Linked DNA regions of Homo sapiens. The protein of the gene in region 4 interacts with the protein of the main gene of each other region in a biochemical or structural test. Each region holds a gene or a part of one and is shown on either strand. Other genes may lie near its edges.

Region 1 (4,711 bases), on a different chromosome or scaffold from region 4:
AACATGCAGTGTTTGGTTTTCTGTTCCTGTGTTAGTTTACTGAGAATGATGGTTTCCAGGTTCATCCATGTCCCTGCAAAGGACATGAACTCAAGGGATGAGATCTTGAAGGAATGAAGAGAGGTACATGAAGAAGGCAGATTTAATTTTTTTTTTTTTTGAGACAGGGTCTCATTCTGTAGCCCAGGTTGGAGTACAGTGGTACAATCACAGCTCACTGAAGCCTACACCTCCTGAGCTCAGGTGATCCTCCCACCTCAGCCTCCCAGATAGTTGGGGCTACAGGTGCATGCCACTATGCCTGGATAATTTTTTGAAGAGATGGGATTTTGCCATGTTGCCCAGGCTCTTCTTGAACTCCCAGGTGCAAGCGATCCACTTGCCTTGGCTTCCCAAAGTGCTGGGATTATAGGCATGAGCCATTGTGCTGGGCCCAGAGGGCAGATTTAAGATGAACTTTCCGGGCTAGATAGATATTCACTGGACCAGGTGCATAAGGAGAGTATATTAGTAATAGGGAATTATATGAGCAGAGGCACAGAGAGGTAGAAGTGGTGGGCTACACGTAAGATAACCTTTCTTTTTCACTCTAGTCATATTGGGAGAATAGTTAGTTTGATTAGAATGTAAGGAGTGGTAGGGTGGTGGAAGAAATAGGGTTTGGTAGGTAGGCTGAGGATATCCTATGGAGGTCTTGGGTTTCAGGCCAGTGAGCTCACATTTGATGTGACAGGGAGTGGGGGCTATGGCATGAGATAGGTAGTGGCAGTGGGAATGGCAAGGAAGAGATGGTGGTGAAGGTATTCAGAGGTAGAATGGACAACCGATTGTGTAATCTAGAAGTGGGGAGGAAGGTGAGTGAAAGGAAGAGTTGTAGATAGACCAAGGTTCACAGAGCTGGTGTTTTAAAGTTGGGAAACCTATTATCATTGGGAAACAGAGTGTTTCTCCCCACCACACAGTGTAGAAATAACCTTTATTAACTAAGTCATAATATTTCAATAGAAAAATATTTTAATACAGTATTGATATAGTAATATTATATAATACTATATAAATATTATATTAACATAACATTAATATTACTATATCAATGTTATGATATTAACATGCATATTAATATAACAGTGCAGAGAAAAAATCTGTATCACAATCAAAAGGGCAGACAAATTAAATCATATAATAGTATATTATATATAACAATGTTATAAATAATATGTTTCAAATCTACTTTGCTTTTATTATAGTTCTGCAATTACCTGCAAATGTTATGTGAGGTCCAATCATGCCTCTTTTGAGTGGCCACTATATTCCAGGATTTGGTACCTGTCCTCTGTAACTGGCCAAGCCCACCTACTAGATCTGCTTTTTTGTTTGTTTGTTTGTTTGTTTTTTGAGACAGAGTCTCACTTTGTTGCCCAGCCTGTAGTACAGTGGCTTAATCATGGCTCACTGTGTAGCCTCGATCTTCCAAGCTCAAGTGATTCTTCCACCTCAGCTTCCAGAGTAGCTGGGTCTACAGATGTGTGCCACCATGTCTGGCTAATTATTTTTCTATTTTTTTGTAGAGCTGGGGTCTTGCTATGTTGCTCAGGTTGGTCTTGAGCTCCTGGACTCAAGTGATCCTCCCTCCTCAGCGTCTCAAAGTGTTGAGATTACAGGTGTGAGCCACTGGCACTAGATCTATTTTTAAAATAGGCCGAGTATCAGCTCTGAACTCAATGTGAGTAAGGAAAAATAAACATTTATTGTAAATAGATCAGACAAGGAGTGTGATGGAAAACTGAGGAGTGTTCGGTGTTGTTCTCTTTCATTCCTGCCTTTGTCAAAACTAAGGATGGAGACAGAATATATTTCAAACCCATGTAGCTTGTACAGCACCCAGCATTCTCATCTGGCTCAATGAATGTCAAAGGATAATAATAATGGCCCATTAACTTTCAGAGGACATGGGATCAAACCAATAAACAGTAGTTCATACTTTTCCATATAGTGACCTCCTCTTCGAAGCAGGGCCTTCATTAACGTAACAGCTGTCTTAATGTGGCTTTAACCCGGTGACTCTTGACATTCCTTATGGCTTCTTTAGTTCCCTTGAGACACATCATGGCTGGCACCACGGCTGTGATCTATAGCCTAACAAATTCCCTAGAACACCCAGCATATGGATCTTTTACTTAACCCAGCAGGAAAAAGAAGGGAGTAGTTAATCACTGATTAAAATGCCAGAAGAAAATCCTTTAGTTTTTAGAGGATCTGGGAAAGCAGTAGCCAAGTCAACTCAGTTTGAGTGATAGCCAGAAAGTGTGAGTTAGTTTAATTTGGGGCACCTGGGAAAACCAAACACGAAACACCCCCCAAACCCCAAATCATGTCTACATTTCATTTTTTTTCTCCTGAGGAAAAATATTTCTACACTCTTCTAAATAGAAATGGGACTAAAGCTATAATAACTTTAGCCTCTGTCAGTGTTTTATATAAATTCATTTAGGCTGTAGCTGTGTTGAGTTTATCATAACCAAATCTGAGTACACAATGTAAGAACTGTTGTATACTAACGACTATTTGCCTAGTAATAATAACACTACAAGGTTTTTTTTTTTTTTAAAAAAGATGATTTGCCTAATTCATCTGTAATGAGGGTAGCTGTTATTAATATCATGCAAATAATGACAAACATTCAAGTTTTGTGGGGAGGAATTACTTGCAAATATTAATTAATTAATTATTTTTTGAGACAGGGTCTCACTCTGTTGCCTGAGCTGGAGTGCACTGGAGTACAGTGGTGCGATCTCTGCTCACTGCAACCTCTGCCTCCTGGGCTCAGATGATCCTCCCGCCTCAGTCTCCTGGGTAGCCGAGACTACAGGCTTGTGCCACCACACCCAGCTAATTTTTGTATTGTAGAGATGCGGTTTCACCATGTTGCCAAGGCTGGTCTCAAACTCCTGGAATCAAGTAATCCTCCTATTTTTTGGCCTCCCAAAGTGCTGAGATTACAGGTGTAAGCCACTATGTCTGGCCCAAATATTTATGATGTGCAAAAGTTTTAGTAAATATTCCATCTAAGAATCCCATGAAGTAGGCAAGTAACATCCTGTTTTACCACGAAGACAATGGAAGACAGAAAAACAAGTTACTAGGGGAAATAGAATTTAACTAGGAGTCAGATGATATGGGTTTCGTTCCCAGTTGACAAATGTGTTTTGTTGAGCAAGTTACTTAATCTTGCTGGAATCCTTTTGGACTTCAGGTTTTTAATTTTTTTAATTTAAAAAAATATGGGGTTGGTTAGATCACATGATCTCAGCTGGGGTTCATGCCCCACCAGGATAATCATGGGTGGACTTCAGGAGATCTGGGAGATTTGAGATTTGTACACAAAATTTTGCTCCTTTGCTTGTGTATGTGTATATACAACTGTTAACTAGAGAAAGGGCCTCTGGCTTTCATTATGTGCTCAAATACCTTTCTCCCATGCCCAAATTAAAAACTAGTAGAACGCATGATTTCTCAGGACCCTTATAGCATCAGTAATTTAGGATTCCCAAAAAATAACAATGGTGATTCCCAAGGGTCCTGAGAAATCATGCATTTTGGGAATGACCCAAATGCATAATTTCTCAGGACCCTTGGGAATGAGAAAGGGAATGAGAATATGGCAGAATCCTTATAGCATCAGTAATTTGGAATTCCTAAAAAAGCACCATGATGATTTGAAGCCGTCTAACTGATCTGTATAGTTCAGAAGTTCAGATAGGTATAGAATATCCTAAGCTCCGTAATGAAGCAAACATATGTTCATCCTGAAGTTCTCTGCAGGAGTTTGCTTTTGGGAGGTATCAAGATGCAGTTGAGTGTGCTTTTGTGTGTGTCCATGGTCTTTTCACATGCATGGGAGCATGGCCTTCCTCCTGTTCAATCTTGCCCATCCTGTTTCCAACCTGCTCTCCAAATGGTGGCCAAAGTTGGATAGCAGCAGTGATTGGAAGGCTGGGAGAACCTTTCATAGAAAGAGAAAGGAGGTGAGAGTGAAGGAGAAGGTCCAGGGAAATGAGCAGCTTGCCCTGAATTTCCCTACTTGGAAAGTACTGTACTTGGCATGTCAGCATTCGACATCCTGAGTCTAGTATTTAACCAAACGTTTTACAATCTTGTTGCGAATTCTCTTTCTAAGGATTAACTATTATGTTCTCTCCCCATTTTTCAAATTGCATTTGAAGTAATCCGTCTTGAATAATGTAGGCTGAATTGCCTTTGAGAACACCACCAAAAATGTGAACCAGTAATTTATTGATGGGCAAAATTAGGCTGACACCAAGGGACAATTAGCACTAATCCATGAAACTTGGAAGCAAATTTGACCTAAGCCTCCATTCAAGTCAAACCGGCTTTCAATTATTTGAGGTGTTTTCTGGGCACTTTCCTGTTTACTCACAGACACAAAAGGCTTTGGCTGGACACCACAGAGTGAAGGAAGCAAAACAGAGCTTCAATTCTTGGTTTTCTCAGATAGAAGTGTCAGTGTGAGACTTTCTATTTAATAGCTAGCATTTACTGAACATTTAATATCTCCTTGGTATTCTTTTAGAAGCTTAGATTGCATTGCATTTTTAATAGTCACAACAATCTTGTGAAGTAGTTTTTATATTCCCCGTTTAGCACATGGGAAAACAGAGACCCCCAGATATTAAGCAAATTGTTCATGGTC
Region 2 (4,711 bases), on a different chromosome or scaffold from region 4:
AAATCCTGTCTAGTCACTGAAGTTTGTTTATAAATAGTCAAAAAAAAAAAGTATTAAGAAAGAACTGTCTGAGAGGCTAAGGCACGAGAATCGCTTGAACCCGGGAGGTGGAGGTTGCAGTAAGCCAAGATATCTTGCCACTGCACTCCAGCCCAGGCAACAGAGTGAGACTCTGTTCCTCCCCATCCCTCCCCAACCCCCCAAAGAAAGAACTGTCAAGAGTGAAAATTTGCTGGTAAGTGAGAGTGAATCACTTACTGGAGGATTGGGGCCTTATCATGCTAAGCACTTTTAACAAATTATTTATATTCTTTTATTTGTTGGTCATAATAGGTAGGTAGCAAATAAGGAAAGAGGTCTCTAAGAGTAAATAATTTGTCCAATGCCAGGCAACCCATAGGTGTCGGGGGAGTTTTAGCTCAGGTCTGTTTATTCTTTCCACAACGCTATGCTTATTTTTTTACTTGTATGTGTACGGTATGCCTCATTGAGTGTCAGTACTGAAAGGTGATTCAGAGAACTTTAGATTCCAGTCTTTTATTTTATATACCAAGGAACCAAAACTGAAACTTGGCAGAGTTAAAATAATAGCATACTAGGACCATAGTCTAATTATGTTCCTAGCACTGTATTAAAACATTGCATGCTATTTACCTCTGAGAAACCCATACAAAAGAGAGAAAGAAGATAAGTTGTCTTTAGGAATTGGTCGTTATAGAGGAAGTGGGGATTTGCTTTTGGGAATTTTCTGCTGACGTGTGGCAGAAGGGTGTACTAACTACATTTGTGCTCTTATTGGATAGAATAAGATAACCAATAGTTGAAGAATAAAATGGAAACACTGATTAAAGTAACTTTTTAAAAAGGTTATGAATCTTATACTATTTCTTTTATATCTTTCTTTCTTTCTTTTTTTTTTTTTTTTTTCTTTCTCTGAGACGGAGTGTCACTCTGTTGCCCAGGCTGGGGTGCAGTGGCATAATCTCGGCTCACTGCAACCTCCGCCTCCCGGGTTCAAGCAATTCTCCCGTCTCAGCCTCCCGAGTAGCTGGGATTACAGGCACACGCCACCATGCTCGGCTAAATTTTGTATTTTTAGTAGAGATGGGGTTTCACCATGTTGGCCAGGCTGGTCTCGAACTCCTGACCTCAAGTGATCAGCCTGCTTCGGTCTCTCAGAGTGCTGGGATTACAGGCGTTAGCCACTGCGCTGGCCTGAATCTTGTACTATTTCCTTTGCATACCAAGAATTAGCACTTGATTACACAAGGGTGCTTATATATGTCAGTTCTTCATTTTTCAAGATAATGAATACTTTAAGTATTTGATTCTCTTTACTTCAGAGTTTCATCTATGAACAGAACTGGTTTAAAAAAAAAATATATATATATATACACACACACACACACATATACATATATATGCACCACAGGTTTTTCTAGGGAGCAGGAGCTTGAAATAAAAAGAATGCACAAGAGAATATTTGAGGAAATATTAATAAAAGGTTTTCAGTAATTTCTTCAGTCTTTTGTGAACATGTGGGGTTTTAGGCTGAACTGTGGTTCTTCTTGATATTCTTCATCTTGTCTATCACCTGTTTGAGAATGATAAGCAAGGACTTGATTCCTTCTTTTAGGTCATAAACTGGGATAAATTCTGCATGACAGTCATACTGTACAAAAGTGTGAAAGTTACTTATGAAGCAGTGAGGTCCCTTTTCATCAGCCTGTTTTCATGCTGAGACAGGGCATAGAATTTGCATCTCCTTTCCCAACTTCTTGATCCAGTCCTTGGATAAGTTCTTTGTTTCCACTCTGGCTTTATCAAAGGGATACAGTGTACATGATCATCACTTCCACAGTTGTCACAGTGCTGCTGGGCTTTGTGAAATGAGGGGTATTCTTTTCAGTGTTCACCATACACCATCCACTGTTTGATTTTCAGACTGTAGAGTTGGCGTAAAGTGATAGTGGCCATGGCATTACTCTGTCGGTAGTCAGCCCACAGGAGAAAGTGCTGGTGCTCCTCTCCTGCGGATCTTCCTCAAGGTGAGGTTAGGTTCTCCTGTTACGTGTTTCCATTTGGATGCCGTGCTTTCACTCTCATAGTACTCCCACACTTTGTTTTCTTTTTGATTACAAGGTCCTTTTTGATTACAAGTCCCTGCTTCTGTAATCAGGGACTCTATGTCGCTATTATCTATCCTCAGGGCCTAGTGAGTTGTGCACGAAGGCGCTCAAGTATTTGAATGTAGGCATATATGGAGAGAGTAGGGGGCAATAGGGCTGCAGCCCCTAAGGGATTCTGAGGGTCATCACACATATCAGTGTGTTGAGTTTTGATTTCTTTGCTTATTCTACTTACAAAAGCAGTATATGTTCATGTGAAAATCACTAAAATGTAATTTCCTCTTCAAAGTAATTGACAAACTTGTGGTGTGTTGTTTTGCTTTTTTTTTTTTTTTTTTTTTTTTTGATGGATTTTGCCCTTGTTGCCCAGGCTGGAGTGCAATGGTGCAATCTTGGCTCACCACAACCTTTGCCTCCCGGGTTCAAGCGATTGTCCTGTCTCAGCCTCCTGAGTACCTGGGATTACAGGCATGCGCCACCACCCTTGGCTAATTTTTGTTGTATTTTTAGTAGAGATGAGGTTTCTCCATGTTGGTCAGGCTGGTCTTGAACTCCCAGCCTCAGGTGATCCGCCCACCTTGGCCTCCCAAAATGCTGGGATTACAGATGTGAGCCACCCAGCTGCTTGGGGTTTTTTTTTTTTTTTTTTTTTTTTGGAGACAGAGTCTCACTCTGTTGCCCAGGTTGGAGTACAGTGGCATGATCTCAGCTCACTGCAACCTCTGCCTCCTGGGTTCAAGCAATTCTCATGTCTCAGCCTCCAAGTAGCTGAGATTACAGGTGTGTGCCACCACACCAGGCTAATTTTTTTCTTTTTAGTAAAGACAGGGTTTTGCTAAGTTGGCCAGGCTGATCTTTGAACTCCTGGCCTCAAGTGATCTGCTGATCTCAGCCTCCCAAAGTGCTGAGACTGCAGGCATGAGCCACTGTGCCCCGTCTATTGTGTCTTTTAAGTATTAGTGTGTCCAGAGTTGGTTCCTTCTGGTGGGTTTGTGGTCTTGCTGACTTCAAGAATGAAGCCGTGACCTTGGCGGTGAGTGTTATAGCTCTTAAAGATGGCACAGACCCAAAGAGTGAGCGGTAGCAAGGTTTATTGTGAAGAGCAAAAGAACAAAGCTTCCACAGTGTGGAAGGGGACCTGAGCGGGTTGTTGCTGCTGGCTGGAGTGGCCAGCTTTTATCCCCTTATTGGCCCCTCCCACGTTCTGTTTCTTTCCTATCCGAGTGCACTTTTTTCAGTTCTCCCTGTGATTGGCTACTTTTAGGATCCTGCTGATTGGTGCATTTTACAGAGCGCTGATTGGTGCATTTTATAGAGCGCTGATTGGTGCATTTTACAGAGTGCTGGTTGGTGCATTTTAGAATCTTCTTGCTAGCTACAGAGCACTGATTGGTGTGTTTTTACAGAGTGCTGATTGGTGCATTTTACAATCCTCTCGTAAGACAGAAAAGTTCTCCAAGTCTGCAGTCAACCCAGGAAGTCCAGCTGGCTTCACCTCTCAATCTCCCCCCACCCCCGTCTAAACAGGACACCCCAGCTGCTGTTGGGAATTGGGTGATGACCGCTCTAGTTACTTCTTGCTGGATAGGGGCGAAGAAGGGGCCCTGCAGTTGTAGTGTCCTCTGGAGGTGAATTCTCTAGGCCAGTCAAAGGGCCAGTGGGTTGGTCCAGGGGTCCTCAGTAGAAGTTGTGAGTTGAGCTCATTTGGGGTGCCATTTGTAAGACCATCTGTAGCTTGATGGCCTCGATCCTGAAGGAAACAAATTTGACAAGGAGATTAAAAACACAGGGCCTGAAGGCGAGTAATAGCAAGATGGCTGTCACAGGACCTAGAAAGGGGAGAAGCCATGTCGCCCAACTCCAGAGGTTGGGATGAGTTTGAAAGCCATTGTCTGATTTCAGAAGCCTTTTCCTATAAACACCTGGTGGCATCTCGTACTATCCCTGACTGGTTAGTATAAAAGCAACACTCTTCCCCTAAGAAGGTACAAAGTCCTCCTTTCTCAGCAGTGAGGAGGTCTAGGCCTCAGCGGTTTTGGAGAGTCACTGCTGCCAAACAGTCTATTTGGGATTGTAGAGTAAGGATAGATTTTGTTATTTCTTGCAAACTGTCTGAGAAATCCTTTGAGAGTGTGTGGTAGTAGGATAATGAAGTAGATAAACTGGCTATTCTGGTTCCTGTAGTGGTGGCCATTCCTAACCCTATAAGTAGTGGTATTAGTTGTATGGCCCTGCGCTGATGGACTTGAGCTTTGAGGGGCACTGATAGGGTCTGATTTCCTGGGGCAATGTCAATGTTGGGACTTAGGAAGACTAAGGTGCAGGTGCCTGTCTAGTTGGTGGGGAGGCAGATATAGGTTGAAGTTCCACATAAGAAGAATATGGCTTCGCTGGGTAGACAGAACTGGTTGTGTATGTTAAAAAGGTGTGTGAATTTGTTGTTTTCATTTTCCCATACTCCTAAAGTACTTGCCAAGGTAGCTCTGGTGAGCGGCTGGGAAGGGGTGTTGGGAGCAAACTGAGTGGCTCTCTGTGTTCTATTTTCCCATTGGAGAAAAAACCGTTTTGTATCTACTAGGAAG
Region 3 (4,711 bases), on a different chromosome or scaffold from region 4:
TGCTTGTTTTTCTCAGGTTTGTCAAAGATCAGATAGTTGTAGATATGCAGCGTTATTTCTGAGGGCTCTGTTGTGTTCCATTGGTCTATATCTCTGTTTTGGTACCAGTACCATGCTGTTTTGGTTACTGTAGCCTTGTAGTATAGTTTGAAGTCAGGTAGCGTGATGCCTCCAGCTTTGTCCTTTTGGCTTAGGATTGACTTGGCAGTGTGGGCTCTTTTTTGGTTCCATATGAACTTTAAAGTAGTTTTTTCCAATTCTGTGAAGAAAGTCATTGGTAGCTTCATGGGGATGGCATTGAATCTATAAATTACCTTGGGCAGTATGGCCATTTTCACGATATTGATTCTTCCTACCCATGAGCATGGAATGTTCTTCCATTTGTTTGTATCCTCTTTAAGTTCATTGAGCAGTGGTTTGTAGTTGTCCTTGAAGAGGTCCTTCACATCCCTTGTAAGTTGGATTCCTAGGTATTTTATTCTCTTTGAAGCAATTGTGAATGGGAGTTCACTCATGATTTGGCTCTCTTTTTGTCTGTTATTGGTGTATAAGAATGCTTGTGATTTTTGTACATTGATTTTGTGTCCTGAGACTTTTTGCTGAAGTTGCTTATCAGTTTAAGGAGATTTTGGGCTGAGACAATGGGGTTTTCTAGATATACAATCATGTCATCTGCAAACAGAGACAATTTGACTTCCTCTTTTCCTAATTGAATACCCTTTATTTCCTTCTCCTGCCTGATTGCCCTGGCCAGAACTTCCAACACTATGTTGAATAGGAGTGGTAAGAGAGGGCATCCCTGTCTTGTGCCAGTTTTCAAAGGGAATGCTTCCAGGTTTTGCCCATTCAGTATGATATTGGCTGTGGGTTTGTCATAGATAGCTCTTATTATTTTGAGATACGTCCCATCAATACCTAACTTATTGAGAGTTTTTAGCATGAAGAGTTGTTGAATTTTGTCAAAGGCCTTTTCTGCATCTATTGAGATAATCATGTGGTTTTTGTCTTTGGTTCTGTTTATATGCTGGATTACATTTATTGATTTGCGTATATTGAACCAGCCTTGCATCCCAGGGATGAAGCCCACTTGATCATGGTGGATAATAAGCTTTTTGATGTGCTGCTGGATTCGGTTTGCCAGTATTTTATTGAGGATTTTTGCATCAATGTTCATCAAGGATATTGGTCTAAAATTCTCCTTTTTGGTTGTGTCTCTGCCCGAAGCCCAGGTTTTTAAAGTAAACTATATGCCAATGTGGGCTTTGAGAAGACAGCTTTCTGGGTCATGGTACGGAAATGAGATACACTTAGTTTCTGCTTTGTCAAGGGATCCAGTATTTAAGAATATTTTGGGCTGCTCTCCCTCCCTCATTTTCTACCTTTTTAAGGACTGGATGGTCTTTCCTTGATTATCAGATTCAATTTTTCAAGGTTGGTAAAACTGTCTGGATCTAAGTATTACTTTCTTTCAGTTTTACAACAGTTAATGATTTTGTCAAACACCCCAGGTGGTGATTACTCATGTGTTTATTGGTTTGTTGTGATTTTATTGTGAAAGCATGACTATGTAAAACATCCTAGAATCTTGGTAGAAAAATTTTACTCAAGAAAGGAAACAAAGACACTTTTAGGAAATGCGAACTGCTAGTTTTCTCAGGGTTTCCAGCATTCCCAAAGAATAGTGAGCATTTCATGTAGCTTTTTTTGTGTTTCTCTTCTGAAGTAAAGTAGACTTGACGTAATATATTGTTTTATAAATAAAAAGTTACTTTTTAATCAAACACACTATAGATCATAAAAGTAGCCATTTAAGAAATATGTAAAGCTTTTTGGGTGTAATCTTTTGTGCATTCTAGAGGAAAATCTTGTTCTGCTCTGTTAAATGCTTAGGTATTAGAAATCTTTTTAAACACTTTGGGTACTTTTCTGGCACTGCAAGGATAGTGGATATGATTACCATGTTCTTATACCTGGCTAATTTTCTGTTTTTTTTTGAATTCAGTATATTTAAAGTTGGAGTTCGTTGCTAAAGATGGCAGACCCAGATGTCCTCACTGAAGTTCCAGCAGCATTGAAGCGGTTAGCCAAGTATGTGATCCGGGGATTTTATGGCATTGAGCATGCCTTGGCCTTGGACATCTTGATCAGGAACTCCTGTGTGAAAGAGGAGGATATGCTGGAGCTGCTCAAGTTTGATCGGAAGCAACTTCGATCAGTTTTGAATAATTTAAAGGGAGACAAGTTTATCAAATGCAGAATGAGGGTAGAGACTGCTGCAGACGGGAAAACCACTCGCCATAACTACTACTTCATCAATTATCGTACTCTTGTTAATGTGGTAAAATATAAACTGGACCACATGAGAAGAAGAATTGAGACCGATGAGAGAGATTCGACCAACCGGGCTTCCTTCAAATGTCCTGTCTGTAGTAGTACTTTCACAGACTTAGAAGCTAATCAGCTCTTTGATCCTATGACAGGTGAGGTTTATCCAGTTTGTGAATCTTTAAAATAAAGTGTGTATTACCTTTTTTCTTAAATTGATTCATCTAATTTTTAAACCATCATATATATTATTATAAAAGTGAATGGATCAGTGTAAATCACAGCATACAGTCAGTCTTACTGTCCTGTTTGGCTGTCGCACTACTTTGAGAAGCCTTTGCAAAGCGTTTCTCCTTTACAAGGGAGTTTCTCACTTATGGCCCTCCTGCCTCTGCCCACCCCACCTTGTTTACAACTGCAGCCTAATCTGAAGGGTTGATTTCTCTACCACTTTGAGGCTGTTCTAATTTTATTTTTGACCTCTAGACAGTTGCAATACAGTGTATTTAAATGCTTTGTTAGTGGAAGTAGAAAGTGGTATCAGGAGTATATAACTAGGGCATATAATCTGGATTTGGGGAAGGCCTCTGGAAGAAGTTAACATTTGAGACCTAAAAGATAGTAAGAGTTAGCTAGATGAAATAAGAGGGGAATTCTTTCCAAGATAAGACATTTAGTGTCCTTTAGATACACATTATTGTTGGAAGAAAATTGTCAACAAGATATATAATTGGCCTGATTTGATTGAATAGTTTTAAGGATTTTTCATAACACAATTTAGAAAGCATGCATTATCTGAAAATACAATATGTCTAGCATAAACATGAGAAACTTTAAAGTTCTGAGTTATATAGTTATTTTATCTTGTTATCTGTTTACACAATAAAAAAGAGACTAGTTTTGCTAAATACTCGATCAATTTTGTCTTATTTTCTACAGGTAAAAATCTATAGAAGGACTCAGTGCTATTAAATTAGATTAAGTCCCTTTGTTATGGTTGAATTCAGGAGTATAGGCTACTTTTTAGTTCATAGATCTGCTTTTTTAAAAACTTCGTCTGAAAGTTTAAACTTTGACCCATGAAATATTTGGTTGTGCAAAATTACAGATTTCTGTGTATGTTTTATTTTCTAATTTTTATGTTATATATGGTACATTTTAAATAATTAAAAAAAATTTTTAAGTGGGAAATAACCCCAATATAAATTAAGATTATTGACAAAAAGAGCCAGAAGCAATCTGTGACCTTTTTTTCTTATTTACTGTGAGGCAATGATTTTGGATGAAAACTGATTTAAGGAATTCACAATTGTATTAAACATTTAATTTGTCTGAGCCGAGCTTTTTACCTTGAAAGGGCTCCACAAGGAGAGATCTTGATTATAAGAAAGTCTTAACCATCCTCGGTATGAGAATTGCTTGAGTGTTCTATAGAGGAAGGTTGTAGAATATATCTGGAGCTCTTCAAAATAGACTAGAAAAGTCTCATGATTCTTGCCATTCACTCTAACAGATTTCTTACAGGAGCTCTGGGTTCTTGGTTTTGTAATTCTCTACAGATGTTGGTTTTAACAGTGGAGGCTTCATCACTCTTGACCACAGTAGAAGGTGTTATCCAGTCCCTTAGAGTAATCTAAAATAACATGCTTCTACTACATTTATTTGTCATTTGAGTCATATTAATTTAATTAAACTTTCTAAAAGGAGATGATTCCACTACTTATATATCAGTATTTGGGAGACTGATCATGATACTCTTGAATTTCACCTGGATTCTGAATGAAACTAGTTGACTCAATAGATGGCCTGTGGAAGAGATGGCCTAACATTCCATCCAGTACAGTCAAGGTGACTTGAATCAAGGAGTTAGGGTAGAGGGCATGAAAGTATTTTATGAAATAAAGCTAAAACTGAAACAATTGTGTTGTGGCCAGTCTGAACAAAGACTATTTTTAATGTGAGGGCTATGGTCAGCATGAAGATGAAAAGAAGGGGTGCCTGAGAGCAAGAATAAGCCACTTAATCTTAATGTCACTCAGGGGAGGGTGCCCTGGTCAGCCAACACTAATGCTTAATTGGCAGTTATGTCCTACAGTAAAGCCTGAGGTATCATGATTAAAAATTTATAATCATTAGGGACCCTCATTCTGAGAACATACTTGCCTTTTTATTGTAACGTGGCTTTTCATTTAGATGCTCCTTTAAGGAGAAAATGTGCTGATTAGGTGATATTAGGCTCTAGTTTGCCAGTTCTGATGTTTTGAGTTTTGTTTTTGTTTTTTTTTTTAAACTATTAATACCCAACAACTTCCTTTGGTCTGTACATTCCTTTTAGAAATCTTTGTGTTTTTCTCTATTATTCTTTCTTGTTTTGCTCGGTATTCAT
Region 4 (4,711 bases):
ACGAAAAAGGTTGTTCTCAAATGCCTAACAAAAGTAAAAACACAAAAATTATATACAGAGTAGCCCTAGGAAATTCAGTCAACTGCTGAGAAAGAAATACCAAGCTTATTGCTCTCCATCTTAATTACGCCATCTAAGGTCTATCCAGTAATACAAATAAATTAAAATATAGATTATCAAATGTGACTAAACAATTTTTCATCCACTATCTTTCAGAGTCAGTAGGGGAGAAAATACAGGATGTGAATTCAGATGATGCTAGCTCTGCCATTACCTCTATGATTTAACATGTCTATTTAAGCTATTTAACATGTCTAAGTTTAGTTTTCCTCATCTACAAAACAGAGATACTTAAAAATGCCTATACCTCACAGGACTGCTATGAAGATTACATATGAAAATCACTTCATAATGTACCAAGTACTATACTACTACCCTAGACCCCAGTGTAGCCCAACACACAACGTGTGAGAGCAACATTTGTTGAATAAATTATTAAACTAATTAAAAAACAAAACAACGCCGGGCACAGTGACTCATGCCTGTAATCTCAGCACTTTGGGAAGCCGAGGCAGGTAGATCACTTTACCTCAGGAGTTCAAGACCAGCCTCGGCAACATGACAAAACCCCATCTCTACAGAAAATACAATAATTAGCTGGATGTGGTGGCGTGCGCCTATTGTCCCATCTACTTGGGAGGCTGAGGTAGGAGGATGGCTTGAGCCCAGGAGGCAGAAGTTGCAGTGAGCCAAGATCGTGCCACTGCACTCCAGCCTGGGTCACAGAGCCAGACCCTATCTCCAAACAAATAAATCATAAAACAACCAATGAGGTAGAAAGAGTGCTAGACAGAATAGGCTGGGAAAAAACAAAAGGAAAACACAAGACAGTAGGACAGAGGACAGCTGAACAGAAACATTTGAGCCAGTTTAAGTAGAGGCAAGATAGGGATAAACTGTCACAAGAAGCCTGAGTCTAAGGAAAGCCTTCCCCGAAAATCAGAAGAGTAGACAGAAAGAGGGAAGACCATCACTGAGTGTGGAAAGAAAATTCTACATGTGAAATATAGGCAGAAAAAGAATTACAGAAGAATACAGAAAAAGATCTTTTTTTTTTTTTTTTGAGATGGAGTTTCGCTCTTGTTGCCCAGGCTGGAGTGCAATGGCGCGATCTCGGCTCACTGCAACCTCCACCTCCCGGGTTCAAGTGATTCTCCTGCCTCGGCCTCCCGAGTAGCTGGGATTACAGGCATGTGCCACCATGCCCGGCTAATTTTGTATTTTGAGTAGAGGCAGAGTTTCTCCATGTTGGTCAGACTGGTCTCGAACTCCTGACCTCAGGTGATTCGCCCACCTCGGCCTCCCAAAGTGCTGGGATTAACAGGCGTGAGCCACCACGCTCGGCCAGAAAAAGATCTTTAAGAGACTACAAAAGTAGCCACAAAAGAAGAGGCTGAATTGGTAGAAAACCTCAACAGAAAGTTCCAGGGAAAGGAGAAGAACAATACAAAGATGATACTAAACATCCGGTTAGCAATAGACTATGAATGTAAAGGATAAAGAAAAAAACTGAGCTTTGCAGATGCTTTAGGAGAATAAACAACAACAACAGTAGAATAAACTAGGTATAAGAGTAGGACAAATGGTTAAGATTGCCAAGAGAAATGAAATGGAGAAAAAAAACAAGATGGGAGAGTGCTAGAGATTTTCCACATCATTTGTGGACCATCATACTTCCCCCCTTGAATATATAAAAGCTGTTATAAGAGAGCCTCTTTACACCCATTAGAACAAAGGAGGGAAAAAAAAAGCATTTCACTATGGCTGGGGACTGTAGATGGCACAGTTCAGGTGTGGTTCAATATTCACAATAACCACAGCTAATGTGATCAAAATGTTATCAATTTTATACACAAAAATTAAATATTCATAAATTATAGTAAATTTATAGTAAATTCATCCTAGGTTGACTTCCTTATGCTTCCCAGATGTTACTGAGCTTACCAGTGTGTATTTTTAAAAACCTATTTTACATTTAGCCTGAGAATAACACAATTCACAGCCAGTTTTAAGAAAAAGATTTCTTTAAAACATTTTTGGATTATACTTATTTTCTTTGTACTTAAAATTAAAGCATCTCAATCAACTAGAATTATAATAGTTCTTTCTGAGCTGACTGGTTCCTCATTTATCAATTTCCTTAGTTAACAGTAAAAACAGGAAAGAATTCCTCACTTGCAGCAATTGGCCAGGATGGAGAGAACCCAGGAAAGGAGATGTATGGCAGTAAACAGTTTCCCCATATTTACAATCTGGTGCTCCAGGATCTTTTCCAGGTTTCTATAAGGAACACAGAAGACCCAGTTATTTAGAATATATCAATAATCCTACACAATATGACCATAGCACTTTACTAATACAGGTTGAGTATCCCTCATCCAAAATGCTTGTGACCAGAAGTGTTTCGGATTTTGGAATAGTTGCATTATACTTACCAGTTGGGCATCCCAAATCTGGAAATCCAAAATGCTCCAATGAGCATTTGAGTATCATCATAGTGCTCAAAAAGTTTAGGATTGGCCGGGCATGGTGGCTCATACCTGTATCTCAGCACTTTGGAAGGCCAAGACGGGCAGATCACGAGGTTAAGAGATCGAGACCATCCTGGCCAACATGATGAAACCCTGTCTCTACTAAAAATACAAAAATTAGCTGGGTGTGGTGGCACACGCCTGTAGTCCAGCTACTCAGGAGGCTGAGGCAGAAGAATTGCCCAAACCCAGGAGGTGGAGGTTGCAGTGAGTGGAGATCATGCCACTGCACTCCAGCCTGGCAAAAGAGCAAGATTCAGTCTCAAAAAAAAAAAAAAAGTTTTGGATTTTGATTTCGAATTTTGAGATTTGAGATGCTCAACATGTTATAACTACAAAAAAAGGTACCACTCCTTTCTCCCAAGAAATTTATGGTATATGTTCACAGATTACCAGTAGATCTCTAACTACAGCTACGTTAATAATAAAAAATTTGTATGTAAGTTTGCAGTTTGTCTCACTACAGCTATGTTAATAACAAAAAGTTTGTACATAAAAGTTTATGGAAGCATAAGCAGAATTATGTATGGGAAAAAAATTTTCTGAGCAGAGACTCACCCGTTTATAATAGTTCTTTATCTTGGTTGCCATGCCAACCTGCATCATTAAGGGTCCATTTTCCTCACTATATTCTGCAAGAATAAGATCACCATCTTTGCCTGTGAGGTCCTGAGGTGTGCGCATAAAAAACATCTCTCCACCACCTGAAGCTTGCCTCTCTTGTTCTCTCATCTGTCCAGAACAAAGAAAATACCATCTAGCTCCTGACAGGACACTACTACACACAATGACGTTGTTCAATCTGAGACAAACACACCAAAAACATTTTACCTATTTTCCAATTTCATAATCAAAATTTTCAAACATACTGTAAAGTTCAAAGAATAGTACAGTCGGCCCTCCATATCCATGTATGGGTTCTGCATCCGTGATTTCAACCAACCATAGATAGAAAATATTCAGAAAATACAAGTGCATCTGTGCTGAACAGGTACAGACTTTTCTTGTCATTATTCCCTAACCAATAACAGTGTTAACAACTATTCACATAGCATTTACATTGGAGTAGGTATTATAAGTAATCTAGAGGTGATTTAAACTATAGGAGAGGATGTGCATAGGTTATGTGCAAATATTATGCTATTTTATCAGAAACTGGAACATCTAAAGATTTTGGTATCCAGAGAAGGTCCTAGAACCAATCTCCCAGAGATAACGAAGGACGACTGTACTATGAACACTTATTATCCCACGTCGCTGTTTATATTTCGCCATTTTTTTAAACTTTTATCTTTCTATAGACTTTGCTGGACAGTTTTTGAAAGATGCAGTCATTCTGACACCTCACCTTTAAATATTTTCACATGCATCACCTAACAATAAAGACATTCTCCTAAATAACCAAAATAACATTCTATCACATCTGAGAAAATAACCAATTCCCTAATACAATCTAATACCTGGTACATTCCCTTAATTTATACCCCAATATCCTTTATAGCTGTTTTCTAACCAGAATTCAATTATACCTTGGCCTTTTTTTTGATGTGCTTTAGCAAAGGTTGGACTGAGTGGGGACCTGGCTGAGAAAGTGCACCAAATGAGTACTTTTTCAGAGGTGGGCGATGGAACTGCCGGAGTTTGATGGGCCCCATGTGGGTGGGAAAGAAGGGCTGCCGTAATTCCACAGCAGGAATTGAATGCTAAAACAGGAAATAGAAGGGTTAAAATTAGCTAATTCCATCCTAAGCAAGATTTTCCCATATCCTCCGTCAGAACAAAGCCATGGGGTTCTCCTCTATCACAGAAAAGACACTATTTGTACCTGGATAATATTCCCTCCAAAGGTGCCTCGAAGACCCTGTTGCTTGGGATAATAATACTCATCATTGGAGAGATTCCATGGATCTTTCACTTCTGGCTGAGACATGTTCTAATGATAGATAATCAAACAAATCTCGGTCAGACTATCCTTCTCTATTACCTTTCTTTGTTCTTCTAAACACCAAGCCCCTTTTTTCTTCACACACCTGCTGTGGTTCCTCCTTGATGACTCCTGTTTTCCCTAAGAGAATTCGACTCTTCTTCAGAGATGATTCCTTCTTACTCTCCTTGGAGGG
Region 5 (4,401 bases), on a different chromosome or scaffold from region 4:
CTGAGGTCAGGAGTTCGAGGCTAGCCTGGCCAACATGGTGAAACCTTGTCTCTACTAAAAATACAAAACTGGGAATGGTGCTGCGCGCCTGTAATCCCAGCTACTTGGGAGGCTGAGGCAAGAGAATCGCTTGAACCCAGGAGGCGGAGGTTGTGGTGAGCGGAGATCACGCCATTGCACTCCAGCCTGGGCAACAAGAGCAAAACTCCATTTAAAAAAAAACCACACAACTGGTCCCAACCAGTTCCCCCCAAAAGATGGCTGGTCCTGGAGAGACTTGGAAGTCTGCAGCTCAGAGCAGCTTCCCTTGGCCACATTCTGGAGGGGCCTCCGCACCCTTACTGGGGGAACTGAGGCCAGTGCAAAGGTCCCCATGAAAGGCATGGGGACTCCTCCACCTTCCCTCCCCGTCCACTGAGAAATAGGGAGCCCAGGCTCCAAGGGGCCTCCTCCCTCCAGCCCCCACTCTGCTCCAGGGAGACCCCCTCAGAGGAAGAGACCCTCAGGGAGGAGGCCCAGCCCTCCTTCCTGCAGGAGGGAAGGCCGAGGTGGAAGGGCCAACCCTGCCTGCTTCTACCACTGCCCCTATAGGAGCACTTACCTGGGGGTGGGGGTGGGGCGCATACAACTTCTTTCTGCCCTCTGAGGGGACTGTCATCACTGTCTTCTCTTTACGGCGGCGGCGGGGTTGGGGGGGTTGGGGGGTGGGGACGGGGAAGCAGGGCTCAGAGGGTTCCAGCCCCCAGCCCAGGGTCACACAGCAAGTTAGAAGAGCCAGGATTGGAATCCAAGCTGGAGAGACTTCCATGACCATGAGCCTGGTCACCCTACCAGCCTATGTCCTGGGGTTGGTGCCAGCTGCAAGCTGTGAATGGCACACACGGCCCACCTCCCACCCCCATCATGCTCTCTGGACATCCCAACCCCTGCCTCTCCCAGGGACAGGGTGTGGAGACCGCAACCCCTCCCCTCCATCAGGAAGGGATGGGCTGTTCCCCCCACCTCCTTCCAGTGCTCATGAGCATGGCCAAGATCCAGGGATAAAGAGAGCCCAAATTCATACTAGGTGCCAGCCCAAGCAACGAACTAGGGGGACTCAGGGCCCCTCCAGGGCTGCCTCTCAACATTCACAGAATGTTCCCCACACCCAACACTCCCCAACCCCCGCAGCCTCAAAAAAACGCGGGCCTTCCATTGACTGTAACTGACAAATTTATTGAAGTCTTGGAAAGAGCTGATCACCCGAGAATAAATAAAAGACACAGAACATTCACAGAACCAATAGGTAGCTCGAGATTCAGGTTTGCGGGAGTGACTTTGACTTACACACAGGCCAGCCTTTGTGTCTGGGGCACGCACAGCTGCGGGCATCTCCCAGAAACTTCTTCCCAAAGGATCTGATGGAGGAGGCAGGGCAGGCTCAGAGGAGCCCCACCCTTCTCCAGCGGGGAGACTTCCCAATCTGGGGCTGGCAGAGCCGGCTCCGGCAGGGAGGGCAGGCTGTTTGGCAACAGACATCTGTGGGTGCAGCCTGGACACCAAGGGCCTGGGGTGGGGTGAGGAGGAGACCCTGAGGGGCTTAGAGAATTGAGCTTGGAGAGAAGGGGCGCCAGGCATTTTTGCCTCCTCCACAGGATACTCGAGAACAGAATGATCTAGAGACCTGGGGATTGGGGAAAGCTTCTCCCGGGGAAGGTGGGGCTGGAGGCAGAGAGGCCCCCTGTGGTCTGGGGAGAGGAGGGGGCCTCTCCCGGAGGACACAGGTGTGTCCCCGCCTCTGCAGCCTCTTGCCTCGACAGGCAAGGCCAATCTCCGACCTAAAGAGGGAGCCTCGGGGTGACGGCTCCAAGACACATGGAGCCTGGGAAGTGAAAGCACAATTATGATGATTTCTCAGTTTTAGAGATGAAAGCGTTTTTCCAGCCCTCGGGCTATGCTGGGCTGGGCTGGGCCTCAGCAAGGTGACATTTCATGTCTAGAAATAGCAGCAAGTGCTCAGTTAATTGGTCAATAAAGGGGAGAAATTTGCTTACAAAAAAGGCTGGCTTGCTGGGAGGCCACCTGGCGGGCCAGCCCTGTGTCAGAGGAGGGGCCAGGTGGGTCCCTCAGCCCCCAGAGAGGGAGCTGTGCGGTCGGCAGTGGGAGGCTCCGAAGGCACCAGCCCTCCCTTGACGCCCTGGCCCCACTTCCTCGGAAACCCCAGCAGCCCCGAGCCGCCCACCCAGGGGCAGCTCCCTCGTGTGAGGTGCAGGGTGGAGCCGGGCCTGGGTCAGAACTGAGCGTGGTCTACCTCATCCAGCCAGGAGGCGGGGCTGGCAGGGAAGTCGGGGTAACCCCCGCTGCTCCCCGTGGATAGGTCAGAACTGGGTCCGTTCCCTGCCAGCACCCTCATGGGTGGGGGCCCGCCGGGGGCTCCCGAGGGCACAAGGCCCAAGCTGGTGTCTGGGTACACCAGGCTGGAGAGGAGGGGCTGGGGGCCAGGGAGGCTCTGCGGGGCGGCGGGGGATGGGGGGACACCGTAGGGGCTGCCGGGACGCAGCTCTCGGTACTGCTCTGGGCCTGCCAGGCCTCCATGCTCCAGGGAGAAGTTGCCCAGGGCTCCCGAGGGCCGGCCCAAGGCCTGGGTGGGTTCCCCCAAGCTCCCGTAGAGGCCATTGGCCGGGCCCATTTCCGCCAAGGAAGGCTCATCTGCAACAGAAGCAGAGGCTCAGTCAGCGCCTGCCCTCCACCTGCGGCCCCTCAGAGTCCCATCCTGCAGGCGGAGGCACCCCTGGGTCGGAGAAAGAGTGGCTGCCCCACACCACATGACAGGTCATAACAGGCCCCTTCTACTGTTGGAGCATGGCTGCCCCTGCCCCTCCACTGCCCTCACCCCTGAGTCAGCCCAGGTGTCTCAGGCCTGGTGGGATCAGAGTCAGGAACAGCCCAGCCAGGGCCCAGGCTTTCAGGACCAGCCCCACAGCAGCCTAGGAAGGGGGCACAGATACCACCACCCACATTTTGCAGACAAGGATATTTAGTTCCAGAGTGGCTGAGTGAGTAGCCCGGGTCACGAGGCAGCCCAAAAGAGAGTGTCTTGTCCACATTCTGAGGATGGGCATCAACAGATGGGGACGCAGCATCCCCGGTGCCCGGAGAATGAAATAAATAATCCAGGCCCCACAGAAGGGTATGGAACCTTCTCTCCCTGACCCCAGGTAGCCCCCTCCCCCAACTCCAAGCAGCTGGGACTTCGACTCAGTCTTTCCCGAAATGCACTGCCCATTCTCCTAAAAATCACTGCAAGGGCTAGGAGCCAGAGAGACGGCCTGGACACGCCCACCCCCCCATGAGAAAGCCCGTAGGCGCCCAGCTTGGGGACAGGTCGGGCCACAGGGATTGTGTCCCCACCAGGGGAAAAGCAGTGGTCCGGAGTGGCCACCCAGGGCGGGGAGGGTGCTGGGGGAGCAGGTTCTGTAAGTGAAATGCTTTTGAAAGTAGAACTTAAGGAGTCCACTAACTCCATGGGAAATTCAGATCCGCGGGCTCCCTGGGACCCCTGCGACCCCGCCGACGCGCGCTCGTCCCCCCCCGAGCTCCGCGATCCCTCCGCCTACCGGGGAAGGAGACCTCAGCGTCGCTGTCCTGCCCCTCCTGAACGCTGTCCTTGTCCGACTTGGAGCCGCCGCGGGAGCGCTTCATGTTGCGGAAATACTGCCCCCAGCGCTGCCGGCCGGCGTCCTTCTTCAGCCTCTTCTCCTTGGCCCGGCGGTTCTGGAACCAAACCTGGGGGCGGGGCGGGGTGAGCGGCCGCCCGGCTCTGCGGGGGCCCCCAAGGCCGCGGGCGGGAGGGAAGCAGGGGCGAGCGCTGACCTGCACCACGCGCATGTCCAGGCCCGTCTCGGACGAGAGCTGCTCGCGCACGTGGCGCGCCGGCTTGGGCGAGGTGTTGTAAGCGCTCTTCAGCGTCTCCAGCTGCTTGGCGGTGATGGTCGTGCGCGGCCGCTTGGCCGTGGCCTCGGCCTCTGCGCGGCGGGCGAGCGGTGAGGCGCGGCAGCCCCTCCGGCCCCGGCCGGACCCCCAGCCCTCCCACCCCGGCCGGCGCGGGGACGTCGGGGCCTCAGGTGCCCACCCCCATCCCGCCCCACAGGCTTCTCGGAAGGCGCGGGCGCTGGGAGCGATTGGCAAAAACGGGCAGCACCCGGGCTGGGGTGGAGGGGGCGCCGGCGGAGGGCGGGTTCTGCCGCGGGGGCGGGGGCGGCGCCTTCCCTAAAATCGCACCTCCACGGCGCCCCCGCCTTCAGCCTTGGCTCCCTTCTCCAAGCACCCTGATTTCCCCGCGGGCTCCCCTTTATTCTAAGGGTGTGGGTATGGCCCAGCCTTCGCGGCCAAGAATTTAGGGCGATAATTCCGACCAGGGGC

What was found.
Region 1: the proteins of TAF1 (region 4) and PAX3 form a complex in vitro, tested with the Homo sapiens proteins (one study listed by BioGRID).
Region 2: the proteins of TAF1 (region 4) and TAF4B form a complex in vitro, tested with the Homo sapiens proteins (one study listed by BioGRID).
Region 3: the proteins of TAF1 (region 4) and GTF2E1 form a complex in vitro, tested with the Homo sapiens proteins (one study listed by BioGRID).
Region 5: the proteins of TAF1 (region 4) and LHX3 form a complex in vitro, tested with the Homo sapiens proteins (one study listed by BioGRID).

The regions. Positions count from the first base shown.
Region 1 is NC_000002.12:222,225,625-222,230,335, reverse strand, and holds part of PAX3 (paired box protein Pax-3), read left to right. Parts: intron 1-4,711. UniProt on the Homo sapiens protein: Transcription factor that may regulate cell proliferation, migration and apoptosis. Involved in neural development and myogenesis. Transcriptional activator of MITF, acting synergistically with SOX10.
Region 2 is NC_000018.10:26,228,586-26,233,296, forward strand, and holds part of TAF4B (transcription initiation factor TFIID subunit 4B), read left to right. Parts: intron 1-4,711. UniProt on the Homo sapiens protein: Cell type-specific subunit of the general transcription factor TFIID that may function as a gene-selective coactivator in certain cells.
Region 3 is NC_000003.12:120,748,521-120,753,231, forward strand, and holds part of GTF2E1 (general transcription factor IIE subunit 1), read left to right. Parts: intron 1-2,002; 5' UTR 2,003-2,032; coding exon 2,033-2,480; intron 2,481-4,711.
Region 4 is NC_000023.11:71,382,574-71,387,284, reverse strand, and holds part of TAF1 (transcription initiation factor TFIID subunit 1), read right to left. Parts: coding exon 4,622-4,711; intron 4,525-4,621; coding exon 4,417-4,524; intron 4,295-4,416; coding exon 4,121-4,294; intron 3,324-4,120; coding exon 3,150-3,323; intron 2,341-3,149; coding exon 2,236-2,340; intron 25-2,235; coding exon 1-24. UniProt on the Homo sapiens protein: The TFIID basal transcription factor complex plays a major role in the initiation of RNA polymerase II (Pol II)-dependent transcription.
Region 5 is NC_000009.12:136,195,056-136,199,456, forward strand, and holds the end of LHX3 (LIM/homeobox protein Lhx3), read right to left. Parts: intron 4,005-4,401; coding exon 3,853-4,004; intron 3,766-3,852; coding exon 3,597-3,765; intron 2,689-3,596; coding exon 2,270-2,688; 3' UTR 1,195-2,269; downstream 1-1,194. UniProt on the Homo sapiens protein: Transcription factor.